Homo sapiens: one gene and its partner. The protein of the gene in region 2 purifies or fractionates together with the protein of the main gene of each other region. This does not show direct contact. Each region holds a gene or a part of one and is shown on either strand. Other genes may lie near its edges.

Region 1 (3,652 bases), on a different chromosome or scaffold from region 2:
ATCAAAGTTAGTCCTCCATAATAAGACCTATGAAAAAAGTCAATGATGTTGGCAGTTATTGACTTGCATGTACAAGCAATAGAGCTGATTTTAAAACCCACAATATACAGAATTGTCTCCCAAAGTAGGAAGGGTAGATATATATTTCAACTATGTTACTATTTCTCAATATCTTTTTTTAAGGTGTGGTTGAGGGAGAGATTTAACATTTTGAATTGCCTTCATGTCTGGTTTAAAATTCATATTAAGAAAATATCTGGTTATCTTAAAATCCTCTTTTTTTTTGGTCAAAGCCCAAAACCATGTTTTGGACTGGTCATTCACTTTATTCAATAAATCTGGCCATGAATGACTTTTGGTCATTTCAGATAAATGCAGATTTGGTATATAAATGATTTATATTTACCATCCTCAAGAAGCTTAAGATAAGGCAATGATTCAAGCAAAAGTGCTATATAATTACTGAAAGTGGACATATAGTGTCAGTTACATGTATAGTTAAGTGTAAAATGAGCAAAAGAAAATAACTATTTGAGTTCCCAAAATTTAGAACTGGCTCTGTTTCAGCTATGAGATAGCAGACTTCATGGTACTAATTAAAATATAAACTCATTGACAAACATCTTAACATACACAAACTAGCTGGTTGTAAAACTCTTAGCTGAGGTCAAGGATTCCTTTACCTTAACCAAATCAAAGAGGAGCTGAAAGATTTACAAACCTGTGTGTCTGCACCTCCTGATGCAAATAGCTCTCCACCTTTTGAAAATGAAACAGTAAAGACAGGTCCCTGAGAAATAAAGGGAAATAAAGAAAAAAAGTACTTGGTAATGCTTTCTCATGGCCAAGAAGACTATGGATATCAATTTCTCATCCTAATTTATGCATACTACTCATGCAATAAGTCTAATAAAACACATCAGTTGCTAGCAACTAATGCTGGCAGAGTGAAGATAATCAAAGAATCAACCCAATCATATTAAAACACAAATAAATGATACTAAAAAAATACTAAAAATTAATTAAAAAAATAACTTTTTTCTCCTTTCAAGAAAAGCTTTTACATATGTAAGTTCATAAGAATTTCTGTTAAGATTTTCTGGCTTTGGACTCTGTATTCAACCAATCACTAGCAGAAACTGAATGATAAATATGTAGGTAATGGGAATGAGGCTATTTACATGAAGTCCATTTCCTGACCAATGGGCTTCACTGAGTTCCCCCTTCATGTAGGCAACCATAAACCACTAAAAGTTTAAAGAGCAGAACACAGATAGGAGGAGAGCTGTGAATGATTAAAATCAGTATCACAATTCTGAGAAAGATGAATTGGAGTAAGATGCTTGGTTGGAGGCCAGTTAGGAAGTTCCTGTAATTATCTAGGTGAGAGGTAATGAAAACCTGAAATTGAGCAGTTACTGCGGAGTTGGACAAGACTGTGCTTGGCACAGTCACAAGATGGATAGCCTCTAGGTCAATTTTTCAGTCCAGATAAGAGTAAGTATTTCTTATCTCAAAAATATTAATATATACCATATGTTTTTAATATGTCCTTAATCTGTACAAGAAAAGTTTTAGGGAAAAACATCTTGTATTTTCCCAAGTAGACTATCCCACAGATTTAGTTTATAATATTAATAGCTTCATAAACACCTTTACTTCCAGACTAAAATTCCATCTTCATGTAGTGTTTTCCTACTGAAAGACTGTGTTTATCTTTTTTCCCTATTATTTTGTACTTTTTTCATGGATATTTCAATCCTTGGCCACTTTTATTTGTTATGTTTATTCAGCCTAAATCCATGGATATGCATATATTTAAGCTGGTTAGTATTTATTTCTGCTTTACCCTAACACCACTGCAGAATAAATGATAACGCAAAGCAGGAAGCCAGGCAGAACCTGTGAAAAAGAAACTCTTCTCTTCTAGACCACAAGGCTCATTCTATTTCTAGATATAAACAGCTTATACTTGTTAAAAGGAAGTACCTCAAAAAAAAAAAGAGGATGCATTCTAAAAAATTCAGAGAAGTTTGAATATTGTCTGGAAGAAAAGACTAGTTTATATACTCAAAAAAATTTATCTAGGCTGGGCACAGTGGCTTACACTTGTAATCCCAGCACTTTGGGAGGCCAAGGCAGGCAGATTACCTGAGGTCAGGAGTTCAAAACAAGCCTGGCCAACATGGTGAAACCTTGTCTCTTCTAAACAAACAAACAAACAAAAAATTAGCTGGGCGTGGTGGTGCGCCTGTACAGAAGGCTGAGGTAGGAGAATCACTTGAACCCAGGAGGCAGAGGTTACAGTGAGCCGAGATTGTGCCACTGCACTCCAGCCTGGGTGACAGACTAAGAATCCATCTCAAAAATAAAGAAATAATAAATTTAAAAAATTGATCTATATGCCAGGGAGGGATCTTTGAACAGGCTCAATAAAAGGCACCCCTCTTACCTACTTGGTTCTAAACCAATTGAGAAATAAGACAAAGGAATACAGCACATAAGAATCGAAATATCACCTTTCTTTCTAATAAATGCTTGTAAAAAGAGAATGTGGCTTTTATGTGTAACACAAATAGGCTTTCTAGAACGGATGCCCAGAATGAGTCACAGGCAACACTAGACAAGGGCAGGTCTCCCCACAAGGAATATCAGAGAAAAACAGTGAAGAATGGCTACTCCCAAAGGCAGGAGAGTAGAAGGTGTTAGGCTGTGCTTACCCAATTTCTCCTAAACCCACCAACAAATTAGCAGAAGGAGTGAGGGAGAGGTGTGAGAGGCTGGGTGTCAGGGCTAAGCGGGACAGCCTCCACATGAAGGAAGGATCTGAAGTATGGAATCTACTTACCCATCACCATTTACCCAGTCAATCTATACAACATACTGATAAAGACAGCAGGAGAAGATTCATTTAATGGCCATTGAAAGATACACATTGATTTTGATAAGAATTACAACAAATAATATTTCTTTTTTTCTTCCATTTTTTTTTTTTGACAGTCTTGCTCTGTTGCCGGGCTGGAGTGCAGTGGTGCAATCTCAGCTCACTGCAGCCTCCCCCTCCTGGGTTCAAGTGATGCCCCTGCCTTAGCCTCCCAACCAAGTAGCTTGGATTACAGGCATGTGCCACCACACCTGGCTAATTTTTTGTATTTTAGTAGAAATGGGGTTTCATCATGTTGGCCAAGATGGTCTCGATCTCCTGACCTCAGGTGATCTGCCCGCCTCAGCCTCCCAAAGTGTTGGGATTACAGGCGTGAGCCACCACGCCCAGCCACAAATAATATTTCTAAGAGTTGCTTCCAGAGGATAAAAACAGCCTTGGAAGTAAAAAAATTTTATGATAGCAGCAATGTGTGCTATGTCTGGAAAAACAATAAAGGGACATAAAAATGGATCAGAAATTTAAAATATATATTATTTTATATTTTTATATATAAAAAGCAAGAATCTGAGTGTTAATACCGTATGTCCTTGAAGTGTATAGATGAGCCTTCCTTCTAAGAGGTCCAGAATCTTAAGGGTACCATCTGAAGAAGCTGTGATGAGATAGTTACCCGAAGGATGGAATGATATGCAATTAACTCCACCGCTGTGAACTGATTTGTAGAAAATAAAAGCAAAAAGTTCAGAGAACAATTCTTACTTTTGA
Region 2 (3,025 bases):
TGGGATCAGGGATTGCTCACAGTCAGCCGCTGTTATTTCCTTTTGCAAAACGAGACAGCAGGCAGAGCTAAGACGCCCTGGCAAAATCCAGATCCTGGAGCGGACCTGAAGAAACAAGATTCATCTTCCTGGTCTCACACACGGCAAAGCCCAAGATGCCACAGCTGAGGAAGGTCCTGTCAGCGCCGCCTCCCCCAGGCTCGGCTCTGGTGTCCTGGGCAGCCCCCACACCCTCACTCAGCCAGGCCCCCAGCAGTCTCTCTCCGTTTGGAGTGAGATGTGGGAGGGGCATCTCATTGAGAAGCGCGAGAAGGGAGAAGGGCCCTCAAGTCCCCACGTGGCCTTGGCAAGTCACTCTGCTTGCTAAACGATGTTGACCTCGCCTGGAAAATGGGAGGACCCACTCCTAGGAGAGTATGGGTCTCAAGGCATTTTTACAAGCACAGCCTGAGTGGGGATGGGGCTCCAGCCTCAGTCCCCTAGTCCATCACGCTCCCAAATCCCTCTCCCGACAGCTCTCAGGGCTGAAGGCCTGTGTTGCCTCCTCCCCCTCTCATCAGCACAGCTGAGGGTCTCACCCTCCTCACATCCCTTCAAAACATAAGCCAAAACAAAAAACCGCCAAGGGTGCTGCTTATAACAAGGTTTTAATAAAATAAAAAGTTCAAGTGCTTCCAAGCCCCCAACATACCCCTTTCTGGTGTGGGGGAGGGGAGGGAGCTCCCCACCCCAATAGCACCAGGATAGCACCATGAGAAAGATGAGGTCACACCCGGCCTCCCTGAGACCCACGGGGGGTGGTGAGGGGAACATGCCTCCAGACACCCCCCAACCTTCCCCCCACCGCAGACAGCTGCAGAGCTGAGAGCGAACCCAGTCCCCTCGTGAGGGCAGTCTCTGGGGAGTGCCACCCCCTACATCAGTTCCACCTCCTCCTGAGGCCTGTACTTCTGGGGAGATGCCGTGGGGTGGCCCCTGCCCCTTATGGCTTTGCTCCCTGGGGAGGAAGGGGCTGAGGGGGGCGGATGGCTCCTGCAGTCCTGAGGCTGGGGCAGGGGTGGGGAGGGCAGCAAATGGCCGGGGCTCCCTGTGGGAGTGGGGGTGGCTCAGGGGTCAGCAGTCACAAAGGGTCAGGGCTCAGATCCCTGGGGGTGTCCAAACCAACCCCATTCCAGGGTCAGAGCTATGCTGGAGTCAAGGGTCAGCTCCCTCCCAGAGGTCCAAGGGCTCCTTCTGGAGGTCCTGGGTAGCAGCTAGGAGAGAGACCCTCTCTCCCTGCTGGGCCTCCCCGTCCGGCCTGTCACAGCTCTTCACCGCCGACATCCAGGTCGATGGAGCCGTGGCTGACCACCAGCCGTAGGCGCTTGGGTGGGGAGAAGGGGGCGAAGGCGAGGGCCTGCTTCGGGATCAGGATGGGGCCTGGGGTCCCAGCAGGGGCTGGGGTAGCTGGTGGGGCTGGGGCCAGGCGACGAAGGTCCACACGCACCACGTAAGGCAGCCCATAGCGCCGGGCCCAGTGCCAGTCCTGCTGAGGGGCCCAGCGGGCGTGGGGGGGCTGGCCCAGGGCCACCAGGGCCTCTCCTCGCAGGCGGCAGTGGGGGCCACAGCCTCCCCATCGGTGCAGGGAGACGCGGGCAGCGTGGTGGGTGGAGAGCACTGGGGCCCTCCGGGGCCGGGGGCGTCGGCGCTTCCGGGGCCGCACTCGGGGCTGGGGCTGAGGCAGCCACTGGAGCCAGAGGGGTGAGGTGTCTGGGCGGGCGCTGCAGGCTGGCAGGCGCAGGGGCTGGCAGGCGGCTGTGAAGGCCCAGGTGGCAGGGAGAGGAGGAACAAAGGAGAGGTGAAGTCAGTGCAAGCTGGGCCGGTCCTCCTCTGGACAAGGAGGCAGCCCTGCCCTGCGCTCCCCAGAGGAATGATGCGGCCGAACTGCTCAACAGCGAGGCCTGCCAGCGACTGAGGGTGGGAGGGAGGGTTCCAGGCTAGGCAGAGAGCTCAGAAGAAAGGAGACAGATGACCAGGAGCAGACAGGGGAGGGGCTGCTGGGATGGCAGGGAGGGGTGCTCACCGCAGAATGGGTCCCGGCGCAGCGGGGATGGGTGCACGCAGGCCCGAGGGCCCAGCAGGCCCTGTCGGCTGCCACTGTCCAGGCCTTGCTGCAGCCGCCGCTTGGTCTCACGCAGCTGGTACTTGTCCAGGGGCCGTGGTGGCAACGCGGGCTCCCTAGGCCTGGTTCGGAAAGCTCCTTCACCTTTCCTGGGAGACCGGGTGAAGGGGAGATGAGGCCGGGTGGAAGGGAGATGAGAGGCTGGGGTTGGACACACTCAGGGATGGGTCCCGAGGGTGCGTTTCTGGGCTCAAGAAGCCCAGACGACCCGAACCCAGCCGCCTCTCGCCCGGTCCCACCTCTCACAGGTGTGGCATTCACAGTGCTCATTCTTCTCGCCGAAGAAGCCCTCGCCGTAGAAGCATGTCACCTCGTCCCCAGGCTCAATGTCCCGGAGCACCTTCACGCAGGCTGCGTTCCCATCTGCAGGCACAAACTGAGGGCCAAGCCCACTCAGCGCCCTGGCCCAGGGCACAGGGGAGGGCTCACCCACTCCCCACACCTGGCCGGGCACCCTGGCCCGGAGCGTCCTCTCCTGGAATGGGGCAACAGCTGAGCCCCTAAAAGTGGCATTCCGAGGCGGCTGCCTTGCCGAGGGCCTGTCCTTTGCCTGTAGCCCCTGGACAATCCACCCACTGGCTGGTTTCCACCCCTCCCTGCAGGACGATGATCTAACCTGACCTTCTGGCAGCGTGCAGTGCCAGCAGTGGTGACCACTCCCTCCAGCCTCTGTGGCCCCGTGCCAAGCCCCACCTCCTCTGCCACACCCAAGCCCATCCCCTCCTGAGCTGCCTGCCCCCCGCCAGACTGTGCCTTGGCAGCTGAGGTCCGAGCTCTGCCTGCTGCGGGCCGCCCCCGCTTCTCTGAGGCCTGCCTCACTCCACAGCCCAATCTGTGTGTGCTCTGGCCCTGCCTTTGGGATCA

What was found.
Region 1: the proteins of KMT5C (region 2) and POC1B purify together in Homo sapiens (affinity purification with mass spectrometry; one large-scale study listed by BioGRID and IntAct). This does not show direct contact.

What each region holds. Positions count from the first base shown.
Region 1 is NC_000012.12:89,466,896-89,470,547, forward strand, and holds part of POC1B (POC1 centriolar protein homolog B), read right to left. Parts: intron 3,600-3,652; coding exon 3,466-3,599; intron 791-3,465; coding exon 722-790; intron 28-721; coding exon 1-27. Other genes in the region: POC1B-DUSP6 readthrough, read right to left, coding at 1-27, 722-790, 3,466-3,599.
Region 2 is NC_000019.10:55,345,725-55,348,749, reverse strand, and holds the end of KMT5C (histone-lysine N-methyltransferase KMT5C), read right to left. Parts: intron 2,538-3,025; coding exon 2,401-2,537; intron 2,251-2,400; coding exon 2,063-2,250; intron 1,795-2,062; coding exon 1,301-1,794; 3' UTR 629-1,300; downstream 1-628. UniProt on the Homo sapiens protein: Histone methyltransferase that specifically methylates monomethylated 'Lys-20' (H4K20me1) and dimethylated 'Lys-20' (H4K20me2) of histone H4 to produce respectively dimethylated 'Lys-20' (H4K20me2) and trimethylated 'Lys-20' (H4K20me3) and thus regulates transcription and maintenance of genome integrity.